Regions from separate parts of the Homo sapiens genome. Here regions 2 and 3 are each linked to region 1. Evidence: fine-mapped expression QTL. A gene starts in region 1. Each other region holds a variant in brackets. All regions are shown on one strand. Distances are between the middles of the regions.

Region 1 (4,200 bases):
AGGAGGAGACGGGATTGATGGTTGCTGGTGGTACTAGGAAGGGGCACAGGCTGGGAGGCGCTGGACGGCAGGGTGTGGTTGTGCTATTTTATCCCCAGCTGTGGTTGGCCTGGTGTTTCCTGTGGAGCAGATGACCGATAAGTGTTTCCCTCTGAAAACCAGGAGTTGAGGAAGATGCTAGTGTGGACAGGCTGGGGAGAAAGGAAGGACCATAGGGCCCCAGGGAAGTGACAGTTGCCACTGTTCACTGAGTTCCTCCAGGGTGCATGGCACCCCTCATTTCCCATCCTCACAGTCCCACGTTGAGCTGTGTGCCCGCCGTGCACTAGGGAAAGTGAAGGCTTCCTGAGGACGAGTGGCTCGCCAGGGTCACAGATGAGAGGCAGACTGAGATTCAAGCTTGGGTGACCTGCCTCAAATGCTTAGGTTCTTTTTGCCACCACGAGCTTCTCCTGGGGTAGGGCTTGGGGGTGGCCCATGGTGCTAATGCATGTGGGGTGCTGACCGGCTTTCCCTCTGGGAGTCCAGGTGGCGCATATTAGCAGAGGGGCCAGGGACTCCTTGGATCCAGGGCGTGTCCTTAGGGTCTCAGCCTTGAGGGTGTAAAAGCTAAAGTGAGTGTCCGGGTGGATAAGGGACTTGGATAGGATCCTGCCGTGTGGGCTGGGGTGGGTACAGCAAGATGCCAGAATCCCTGGAGTTCGCAAGGACATTATCTTTTTGGAGACCTCAGGGTCTGATCACACTTCATGACTGTTCTCTGGGCCTCAGATTCCTCATCAGTGAAAAGAGGATAAATCATCCTGAGCCTTGCTCTTTCCTAGGGATGTTGGAGGGAAAGAAAAGAATAAAAGATGCCTGATTGTGCTCTGCGTGAAACTCTCCATCTCTTCCACCCTGTCTTGTCTTTGGGGTGGGGACGATTCTCCTGCCTGCAAAGATCAGGGAACTGAGACCTGAAGAGGATAAAGTGCCTTGCTGAGGCCCAAGAAATACAGAGGTGCCACAGCAGGACCTCTAACCACAACCTAAGGAGACTTGGGAAGTGGATAAGGGTGATTCTGCACTAAGTGAACCCTCTTTTTTTCTGTCTCCTACTGACCTTGCCGTGTCCATCCACGGGTGTCCCGAAGAACCTCCTCTTCCGCAGCCGTGACCCCTCTCCTATCCAGCAGCCTCCCAGCAGCTCCGCTCCACCCCGCCTGCCAGCAACAGGAAGCCCTGGTGAGACCAAAGGCTCAGCGGTGCCACCAGCTCATCCGGAGATTATTCTGCCTTGGTCTGGGCTGTAGCGACGCTGGCAACCTGCCGGGAAGTGGCCATGGCCTCGGGCAACAGCGAAGTTTAGCCCAACTCCCTTCCCAGCCTCCACCCACACAAGCCTGAGAGACAGGCCAGGGTGTGGCCCCATGTCCTCCCCCTCTGGAGGGTGAAAAACAAAACTCCCCAGGCCAGAGGAAGCCAGGGAGTGGAGGGATGGGGTGAGCGCCAAACACAGACCTAGCCCTGTTCCCTTCCATGCTTCATGGAGGGATCACCCCTTCTAGATCACCCCTTCTGTCCCTGCCAAGGAAGGCTGCCAGATGGGCTCAGGCAGAGCCATGTGGCCATGCAGACTCCAAGAAAAGGAGAAGCTGGAGGAGGAGGACCAGGAGGAACAACAGGAGGAGGAGGAGGAGGAGGAGGAGGAGGAGGAGTCTGATTCTTCCCCCACTTCACAGCCTGGAGCTTCCAGCCTAACTTCCTGGGAAAGGCAGTTTGCATCACTGCTGGGGAAGAATGGGTTAAAGTCAGCCCCCTTTGCCCCATCCTTTTCCCTTCTTGGCTTCTAGGCTCCTAATTAGCTCCCTGTGGAGGCCCTGGGTTCATAAACTGGCTCAAAGTGGGGTACAAGATACCTGCACAGGGTGGGTGGTGAGCAGAGGATGGGCCAGGCCATCTTCTGAGACCACTGCCCCCAGGCCAAGGATGGGTCACATCCAGACCCCCAGTGGGACCTCCTCCAACATCAGTGACGACAGGAGACTGGCGGCTCGGGGAGGGGCAGGACTGCTCCCTGTTCAACCGGGTGGAGGGAACCTCAGCTAGGGGCCTCTCTCCCTCTGGGCAGCGTGGGACAGGCCCCACCATGCTCCGCTGACACCTGGCACACCCCAGGGAGGGCCCCTTCCTTACCTGGGGCCAGCTGTGGGCACTTGTGGCCATGGCCTCCTCGGGGCCGGACTCTCCAAGTGGCCTCCAGGAGGGCGGTGCAGGGCAGCGGCGGCCTCCGCCGTTCCCTCCCGCTTTTCTTCTGCACGGGGGCCTGGGGCTGGTGGCGGCTTCAGACTAATCTAACTCCAGAAAAGAGAGAAGAAAACAGTGGGATGGAGTCTGCGCGCCAGTGAGTGGAAAAACAGCCTCCCGGCGCCACCAGGCAGAGGAGGGCGGGCCCCGAGGGCGGCGCGAGAGGAGAGGAGCCGAGAGGAAGTTGAGATGCCTGTTCTGCAGCTGCTGCGCGTCCCACCGACCCGCTGCTCGCCGTCCCTGGGCCGTGCTGGCCCTCCGCCCTCGGCCCAGACCCGGACCGGGCCATGCTCCACACCAATGGGACCAGTCGGGAGGGCCACGTGGGGATGTGGAGGCATTGGGGAGATCTGACCCAGACCTGCCCCCCATGACAGTTTCAAGAGCACCCCACGTACTTGACCCCCGCTGGGCAGAAGCTACCAAAGGAGACCCCGCGAGGGTCAAGGGAGGGTGTCGTCAGGCCCGCGCTGAGCCCTGCAGGATGCTCAGGGCCAGGGCCCCACCCTCTACTGGCCCTTCTCCCTCAGAGTTGTCCATTGACTGGACAAACCATCCCCAATGCTGACTCTTTGACCTATAGTCAGCTAACTCCCCGGGACCTGCTTCGGATCCCTGGAGGGCTGAGGATTGAATTCAGGAGCCTAGGGATTCTCCGGGTCCTGCAGGCAGAGCTCCAACTGGTGGGTGAAAGTTACAAGGAGGCAGGTTTCTGAAGGAAGCCCTGTGTAATAATCAGAGCTGCCCAGCCTGTATCTAAAAGTGGTCAAGATGCGGGCTGAAGCGTCACGGGTCAGGAATGCTGCACAGGAGAGTCTACGGACAGGCTAGATGACCCTTAGCATGGAGGGAGAGGACCCCCGACATCTGTCAGCTCTGCAGTGCTCGTGGTTCCGTCATGGTGGAGCTGCCGAGTGACCCGCTGGCCTCCCTGAGCTGGGCTTGACCATATGTACGAAGGAAAGAAAAGGTACCAAGTTCTGCTTGTTTATTTGTTTGTTTCAGATCCCAGCATGTGCTAAACACAGTCCCAGATCCTTCCCTAAAAGTTATCTTCCTCTATCCTTACCACAATCCTGAAAATCAGGTCTTTTTTAAAAAATAATTTTTTCATTTTAAAAAAATTATAAATCTTCTCTTTATTCTTCTTCTTCTTCTTATTATTATTATTACTTTACAGAGACAGAGTCTTGCTATGTTGCCCAGGCTGGTCTCCAACTCCCAGGCTCAAGTGATCCTCCCTCCTTGGCCTCCCAAGTGCTGGGATTACAGGCATGAGCCACTCCGCCTGGCCAAGCAGGTCTTCTAATATCCATTTTATAGACAGACACACTGAGGCTTAGAGTGGCTGGGTGACTGGCCACAAGTCCTGCAGTGCTGGTATTTGAACTCAGGTGTGCCTGACCCAAAGCTTTGCTCTTCATCACATTTGTACCTCCTGATACCTCCGGGCCTTCTCTTCCCACTGGAAGTGCTGCCACCCACCAACATACACCTTGTTTTTTGCTCATCCTAATCCTCCCTGACTTCAGGGCCCATACCAACTCCTACCTCCTGGAAGAGCCCTCCCAGCCCACCTTGGCCCACAAAGATCTGAGCAACTCCTCCCAAATAATTAAGAGGAGGGAAACTGGACCCCAGAAGTGGGAATAGAGGGAAGGATGGATAAAAAAGGATGGAATCATGCCAAGATCAAAATGAATCCTTAGATGCTTGGGACTTATGTCTCAGAGCTGAGGGCGGTGCTGAGAAACCTATCTGTACCTCTGTTTCCTCCTCAACAAGATGGAAGCTCGAGTGTTTGTGTTGCTGTCTCATCCCTGCCCAGGGGAGGAGGAAGGAAGTCCTTAGGTTCAGAAATCAACAAATACATTAGCCACCCTGTGCTGGGTGCCTACTATGTGCCATGTGCTT
Region 2 (4,000 bases), 120 kb before region 1:
CAATAGTTTGAGGTGTAGGAGGTGATAAGTAGATGACAGAGTTTGAAAGTAAAAACTAATGCTTACCCAGCTCCGATCTGAGACAACTAACGATGCTACGACCTCATGCAAATAAAAAGCTGAAGTAATCAGAACTAAACAGTCCCTTACAGGAAAAGCACAAAGTGTTTTTTTAGGACTTACAGACTGGGAGCCTAGAATGGCTACCTAGGGAACCGAGGCACACATTTGTTCCATGTTACAGCACTCAGCTTTCCTATCTGTACAGTAGTTTGTTCTTGAGAACTTTCCCAACTAAAACTCAGAGTCTATATTAGATAGGTATTTTATTTTTCTAGGTGTCTTGGGCTTGCTTGTTATACTTGAGCAACTGATAAATGGTCTGCCCGTTATTACCACAGTACAGCATACAGAATAGGTGTTGAGTGTAGGCACTCCAGGCAGACACCTGGGCTCAAACCCTGGTTCTGCCATTTTCTAATAGTGAGTCTTTGGGCAAGTTCCTGAACTTGTCTGTGTCTCTATTTGTAAAATAGATAAAAATAGCACCTGCTTCATACAATTATCATGAAAATAAGTTAATGTATGTAAATAATAAAAATACCTGTCACATAGTAAGCACTGAAGAGTTGTTAGTGTTGTGAGCCATTTGTCTCTAAGATTATTTGCATCATTTTTGCTCTTTATGTACAGGATTTTAACTTTTTTTGTTTGTTTTTTGTTTTTGAGATGGAGTCTTGCTCTGTCACCCAGGCTGGAGTGCAGTGGAGCGATCGTGGCTCACTGCAACCTCTGCCTTCCGGATTCAAGCGATTCTCTTGCCTCAGCCTCCCAAGTAGCTGGGACTACAGGCGTGTACCACCACGCTATTTTTTGTATTTTTAGTAGAGACAGGGTTTCACTGTGTTAGCCAGGATGGTCTCGATCTCCTGACCTCATGATCTACCGGCCTCAGCGTCCCGAAGTGCTGGGATTACAGGCGTGAGCCACTGCGCCCGGCGGATTTTAACTTTTGAGATGGAGTCTCGCTCTGTCACCCAGGCTGGAGTGCAGTGGCACAATCTCGGCTCACTGCAACCTCTGCCTCTTGGATTCAAGTGATTCTCCTATCTCAGCCTCCCAAGTAGCTGGGACTACAGGTACCCGCCACCAACGTCTGGCTAATTTTGTATTTTTAGTAGAGATGGGGTTTCATCATATTGGTCAGGCTGGTCTCAAACTCCTGACCTCAGGTGATCCACCCGCCTTGGCCTCCCAAAGTGCTGGGATTACAGGCGTGAGCCACCGCACCCGGCCCCAATTTCTTAAACCTAGTAGAAAATGATTTTATTGTTTTATAGGGCTGTCATTACTAAAAGAGAAAACTGAAACAAAGATTTCATGAAAAAAATATAACCAGTAACGGGCTTAAACAAAAATTCTAACATAAGCATATACATATATATGTTTTTGAGATGGAGTTTTGCTCTTGTTGCCCAGGCTGGAGTGGAATGGCGCGGTCTTGGCTCACTGCTACCTCTGCCTCCCGAGTTCAAGCAATTCTCCTGCCTCAGCCACCCAAGTAGCTGGGACTACAGGCGTGAGCCACCACACTAATTTTTGTTTTTTTAGTAGAGACAGGGTTTCACCATGTTGGCCAGGCTGGTTTCAAACTCCTGACCTCAGGTGATCTGCCCACCTCAGCCTCCCAAAGTGCTGGGATTATAGGTGTGAGCCACCGTGCCCGGCCAGTTTTTTTGTTGTTTGTTTGTTTTTGAGACAGTCTCGCTCTGTCGCCTGGGCTGCAGTGCAGTGGCACGATCTTGGCTCACTGCAAACTCTGCCTCCTGAGTTCACGCCATTCTCCTGCCTCAGCCTCCCGAGTAGCTGGGACTACAGGCGCCTGCCACCATGCCCTGCTAATTTTTTGTATTTTTAGTAGAGACGGGTGTTAGCCAGGATGGTATCGATCTCCTGACTCGTGATCCACCCGCCTCAGCCTCCCAAAGTGCTGGGATTACAGGTGTGAGCCACTGTGCCCGGCCTGTTTTTTGTTTGTTTGTTT[T/G]TTTTTTGAGATGAAGTTTTGCTTTAGCCCAGGCTGGAATGCAGTGGCGCAATCTCGGCTCACTGCAGCCTCTGCCTCCCGGGTTCAAGCAATTCTCCTGCCACAGCCCTCCTGAGTACCTGGGATTACAGGCATGCATCACCATACCGGGCTAATTTTTGTACTTTCAGTGGAGACAGGGTTTCCCCATGTTGCCGAGGCTGGTCTCAACTCCTAACTTCAAGTGATCCTCCCGTCCTGGTCTCCTAAAGTGCTGGGATTACAGGCGTTAGCCACCGTGCCTGGACAAGCATATATTGTTTCAACCAGATACATTTTTATATCCCCAAAATGTTTACACCAAGCAAATTACAAACAATGTTTCTATTCAAAGTTTCTATCGAATCTTGGCTTAGGTATTAAAAAAAAATCAACAGCTTTATTGAGATGTAATTCACATACCATTAAATTCACCCTTTAAAAGTGTACGATTAAATGGATTTTAGTATATCTACAAAATTTTGCAACCATCACTGCTATGTAATTTCAGAATATTTTCATTACCCTAAAAAGACGCCTGGCTGGGCAAGGTGGCTCACGCCTGTAATCCCAGCACTTTGGGAGGCCAAGGCGGGTGGATCACCTGAGGTCAGAAGTTCAAGACCAGCCTGGCTAACACGGTGAAACCCCGTTTCTACTAAAAATACAAAAAATTAGCTGGGCGTGGTGGGGCGCACCTGTAATACCAGCTACTTGGGAGGCTGAGGCAGGAGAACTGCTTGAACCTGGGAGGCAGAGGTTGCAGTGAGCCCAGATTGCGCCACTGCACTCCAGCCTGGGTGACAGAGCGAGACTCCATCTCCAACAAGAAAAAAAGAAACCTGTACCTCTTGGTAGTCACTCCCCATTCAGCCTCTTCCCCAAGCCTCTGACAACCACTAATCTGCTTTCTGCTCCTGTGGATTTTCTTGTTCTGCACATTTCAGATAAATGAAATCATATAATATATGGATGGCCTTTTGTGACTGGCTTCTTTTCCTTAGCATCATGTTTTCAATGTTTACCCATGTCAGACCATGTATCAGTACTTCATTCCTTTTTACTGTCAAATAATACTCTATTATATGAAAATACATTTTGTTTATCCATTCATCAGCTAATAGGTTATATACACTGTTTCCAGTTTGGGGTTATTATGTTTTTTGAGACAGAGGTTCGCTCTTTTGCCCAGGCTGGAGTGAAGTGGCATGATCTCAGCTCACTTCGCCAAGTTCTCTGCCCTCCGGGTTCAAGTGATTCTCTTGCCTCAGCTTCCCAAGTAGCTGGGATTATAGGTGCCCACCACCACGCCTGGCTAATTTTTGTATTTTTAATAGAGATAGAGTTTTGGCATGTTGGCCAGGCTAGTCTCGAACTCCTGAACTCAGGAGATCCACCTGCCTTGGGCTCCCAACGTGCTAGGATTACAGGCATGACCCAATGTCCCCAGCCCAATTTGAGATTATTAAAAATACATATATATTTCAAATCAAATCCAAATAATGTGCACACAATGTAATTAATTTATATGTCCCTTAAGTTACTTTTCTCAATAGGTTTCATCTGTAGGTTTATTCTTCATCTCTTTCCTTTTTAATTTATTTGCTGAAGAAACAGAATTGGTTGCTATGTAGTTTTCCACTATCTTGATCTGGCTTATTATATTCCTTCAGTGTCATTTAATACATCTCTCTCTCTCTTTTTTGAGACAGAGTCTCGCTGTGTCGCCCAGGCTGGAGTGCAGTGGTGAGGTCTTGGCTCACTGCAAGCTCCGCCTCCCAGGTTCACACTATTCTCCTGCCTCAGCCTCCCGGGTAGCTGGGACAACAGGCACGCGCCACCGCGCCTGGCTAATTTTTTTTGTATTTTTAGTAGAGATGGGGTTTCACTGTTAGCCAGGATGGTCTTGATCTCCTGACCTCGTAATCTGCCCACCTC
Region 3 (4,200 bases), 29 kb after region 1:
CTCATGGGTCACTGAGTGGTGTGGGACCGCACCTGATGATGCCTGGGTCCTTCCTCCGGTGCCCTGCGGGCCGGCGCCACTCCTCGACCATCACCACAGACTGCCGGTTGGCGAGGAGGCCGCAGAGAAACAGGGCGAGCGGGGGCGTCAGCAGCAGGCCCAGGCCGTAGAGTGCATTGTAGTGCACCAGGCAGGGACAGTTGAAGTCAAAGGAGGAGTACAGCTTGACGGTGACCGCAGCCAGCAGCAGGCAGATGCCATTCATCACCGACTCCGAGCTTGACTGGAAGTGCTGGAAGAGCATGCGGAATTTATCCATGGCTCCAGCCTGGGTGGGTGGGCGGCCGTCGGTTCGGCTCAGTGAGGCTCTGGCCACCTTCCTGGTGTCTGCTGTGCTGGGGACGAGCCTGGGATCTGCAAGAGGTTCTCTCTCTGCTTCCAAGGGCCTGAGGGGCCAAGGAGGAAGCAGTGCCCAGGCCCCAGCCCAGGCTCCCGGGATCCAGTAGGCACTTAAGGCAGGGACAGGCTCTCACCACAAAGGCTCCCCTGCCCAGCCCAATGGTCCCCTGGTGCCACTCCCCTCCTGTCTGGGGGAGTGAGTCACCCTCTGTGACCGGGCAGCCCAAAGCACCTCTAGGCAAATGGGCCCCGCCCTGTCACTCCATTCCTCCCGGCCCATTTCTCTTTGCTTTACGGTCTGGATGCTCAGGCTTGACAGCCGTTGGAGCTTCCTTCGGGGGACAGGCAAATTCTGGGTGTGGTGAGGAAAAGATGCTGATGGAGCCAAGGTAGTATATTTTCTGGTCTTGATCAAAAGCATGACTCTGAACTTGTCTCACAGGCATAGTAAAACAACAGCAACAACAACAACAAAATATGACGACTCAGCTCAGCCCAGGGAGATTTCATGTTGGCTTTCAGGCTAGGAGGAGCCAGAAGGGGCACCTATTCCTGACCGAAGGCTTCCTGGAAGAGGAGACCCTTGAGAGGAGTCTTCAACGATGTTTCAGCATTTGCCATGAAAGGGGTAGCGGAAGGGGATGGCCTCCCTGGGCGACGTGCTAAACATTGTGCATTAACCACTGGGTGCCCATGGGAGAGGCTGCTCAAGTGCCACGCCCACACCTGCATGGCTTTCCCCCTGCCCTTCTTCCGTGTGAGGGGCATGCGTTTGAAATCACTGCTTCTTCTCCTAACTCTCCCACATCACTAGGTCTCTCCTTGTGTCTCAGTTCCAGTCTCTCCGAAGGATGACAGCCCAGATGTTTGAGGGACCCCTGAAACCTGCAAAACGAATTTTGTAAAGGTCACTTGGCCCATATTGTAAGTCAGATCATCCCAAATAAGTCTTGCAAATTTCGTAACCATCTGTGTGGTCTGTACTTCTGATGAAGACAGACAGAAACCTGGGTCTTACTTATTATTATTATTATTATGAGATAGAGTCTTGTTCTGTCACCCAGGCTGGAGTGCAGTGGCACGATCTTGGTTCACTGCAGCCTCTGCCTCCCGGGTTCAAGTGATTCTCCTGCCTCAGCTTCCAAGTAGCTGGGATTACAGGCACCCACCACCACGCCCAGCTAATTTTTGTATTTTTAGTAGAGACAGGGGTTTTGCCATGTTGGTCAGGCCGGTCTCGAACTCCTGACCTCAGGTGATTTGGCCCCCTTGGCCTTCCAAAGTGCTGGGATTACAGGCATGAGCCACTGAGCCTGGCCACTTAGTATTTTTATTTTCCATATTTGTACGTTACTCTAGGTCCTATGAGACAGATTTCCCTGTGTGAGGGAAATGAGGCACTGGAGAAGATGGGGAGAGCCACCAGTGGCCCTGTGAGTCTGACTCTGAGCGGAGGAGAGGGCGGGGCAGGGGTGAGAAACCCTTCAAGCCAGGAGGACCACCACAACTTCAGGTGGGTACAGTCCCAGAGGGGCTGTTGGAGGTCACATACCCTGGCGGGGACAGAGCCAGGGAGGAAGCTGGGATCCTCCATCTGTGCCTTTCAGCCTTAGTCACCCACTGGGCTGCTGACCAGAAAAGGGGACTGTCCTGGCCCAAGGCCAGGCTTCGTGACCCTGAACCAGCAGGGCTGGTGTGGAGCAGGCGGGGAGCTAACTGGGCTGGGAGGGTCATGAGCACCCCTCAATCCCATTCTAGTCTCAGGGAGGGATAGAGTGTCCTAAGGGTCCCCAGCCACTCTAACCTTGAGAGTTCA[G/A]AAAACAATAGACAATGCTTCTGGAAGAACACTTTGAAGAAAACTGGGTCAAAGACTCCAGGCCAACCTTTTCACAGCTCCAGCCTCTGAGAGGTAAGACAGAGCTACCAGGTCAGCCTGGGTCCCTGGAGCCCTGCAGGGCAACAGGTGCTGAGTGACTGCAGCGGGGCTGACCCTTGCCGGGTATTTACAGGAAATACTTCAGTAAAGAAACAGGCCAGAAAGAAGCCCACCACAAAAGGGATATTATCTGTCAAAGAGAGGGGATGGCTTACATTTTTTTTTAAATCTCTATTTTCTGAATTGTCGACTTTTATAATAGTAGACATAATAAATCATTACTATAATCATAATAATGATTTTTAACTATTTCCAGCAAAAATCATAAAACATTTTAATTAGAAAAACATAAAAAGATAAAAGGACAAGGCAAAAAGGAGAATTCCATTTTGTTGCCTGGAGCTTGGCCCTGCTGAACTAGTAGAGAGAGAACTAGAGGCAGCAATAAATGGAGAAAGGCTTCTTTTACTCACACATATGGAAAGATATTAAATTGCAGATCTGGCCGGGCGTGGTGGCTCACGCCTGTAATCCCAGCACTTTGGGAGGCCGAGGCAGGCAGATTGCCTGAGCTCAGGAGTTTGAGACCAGCCTGGCCAACATGGCAAAACCCCATCTCTATTAAAAATACAAAAAATTAGTCGGGCATAGTGGTGCATGCCTGTAATCCCAGCTACTTGGGAGGCTGAGGCTTGAGAATTGCCTCTCTTGAGGCTGAGGCATGAGAATTGCTTGAACCCAGGAGGCGGAGGCTGCAGTGAGCCCAGATCATGCCACTGCTCTCCAGCCTGGGCAACAAAGAGAGACTAAAAATAAATTACATTTTTCTTTTTAATAATGATTTAATCTTTTTTTTTTTTTTAAAACCAGTTGTAAATATGTGTTAATTTGCAATTGGAAGATCTTTATAGAATAAATCTTTGGTACTTTCTTCATGTTATTTTGTTTTATTTTCAAATTGGAGTCTTGCAGATATATTCTTGGGGGTCTTCCAGTTTTTTTTGATCTTTGCAAAGGAGTCTGGATATTATTTGAGAAACACTGGCTTCACCGTTCTTGGAGTTCCTGTTATTGAGAGGGCTGTTTAGGACTAGATGCCCCCTACTGGAGAAACTCGTTGTATGTGATGTGTGAGAGATGTGTCTATGTACCTGTGTATGCATGTGTGTACACATGTATGTGTATGTGCGTAGTGCATGTGTACATATTTGGTGTGTGTATGCATGTGTGTTTTCATACATATGGGTGTGGCCGTCTTCCTACTTTGTATATGGTGAGTATGCCCTCCCCTGACAGTTCTTTCTTTTCTTTTTCCTTCACAGGGAAGGCATTGAACGTGCGTCCCACTTCTCAGGACTGGGAGACTGTTGTTCTGTGTGTCTAGCAGAGGGTGGTGCCCTTTCTGTCTCTCGGTGGCGTGATTCTCTGCTTCCCTGAGGACACAGGCCTTTGAGCGGTCCTGGCAGACCCGGGGAAAGCAACGTGGCACTTCTGTGGGCCCCACTCTGGTGACTCCACAGAGCCGTGTAGCCCTAAGGGCAGAGACAGGCTGGAAATGAAATGGGGCCATCTAACAGATGGCGCTGGAACAACTGGCTAGCCATTCGGGAGCAATCTCTACTTCATGCTTCATACCAAAATAATTTTCACATGGTTCAAAGATTCAACATAAAAATTAAAATCATAAAAATTCTACAGGAAAACGTAAGGGAATTTATTCATAATCAGAGGCTAAGGAAGGCCTTTGTGAACAGACCCCAGAATTTAGTAGCTGTAGAGGAGTAGATGGACAAGTAAGAGTCATAAAAACTAGACGCTTCTATGGGCAAACATACCAATAAACAAAATAAAAATAACAAACTGAAGGAAGGGTATTTGCCACACAAAGGCCTCTTTTTCTTAATTTGCAGAAGGCTCATATAAAT

Evidence for each region. PIP is the estimated chance that this variant, and not a neighbour inherited with it, causes the effect.
Region 2: its variant is fine-mapped to the expression of CALHM2 in blood mononuclear cells (TOPMed, PIP above 0.99).
Region 3: its variant is fine-mapped to the expression of CALHM2 in whole blood (INTERVAL, PIP above 0.99).

The regions. Positions count from the first base shown.
Region 1 is chr10:103,449,981-103,454,180 of GRCh38, forward strand. It overlaps CALHM2 (calcium homeostasis modulator family member 2), which reads right to left and starts at 2,390. Exons shown (of 4, transcript NM_015916.5): 1 at 2,176-2,390; 2 at 1,103-1,305; 3 at 1-119. CALHM1 (calcium homeostasis modulator 1) reads right to left here. Exons shown (of 2, transcript NM_001001412.4): 2 at 3,260-4,200. It overlaps LOC124902494 (a long non-coding RNA gene), which reads left to right and starts at 2,463. Exons shown (of 2, transcript XR_007062275.1): 1 at 2,463-3,256. RefSeq lists enhancers at 1,063-1,432, 1,381-2,001, 2,002-2,623 and a silencer at 2,462-2,791.
Region 2 is chr10:103,328,044-103,332,043 of GRCh38, forward strand. The region is part of intron 7 of PCGF6 (polycomb group ring finger 6); the gene reads right to left. Among named protein-coding and RNA genes, the nearest start is that of PCGF6, 21 kb to the right of the region's middle. The variant T/G (reference allele first, on the strand shown) is at 2,045.
Region 3 is chr10:103,478,714-103,482,913 of GRCh38, forward strand. CALHM3 (calcium homeostasis modulator 3) reads right to left here and starts at 527. Exons shown (of 3, transcript NM_001129742.2): 1 at 33-527. The coding sequence starts at 319. NEURL1-AS1 (NEURL1 antisense RNA 1) reads right to left here. Exons shown (of 4, transcript NR_120675.1): 4 at 890-1,284. The variant G/A (reference allele first, on the strand shown) is at 2,216.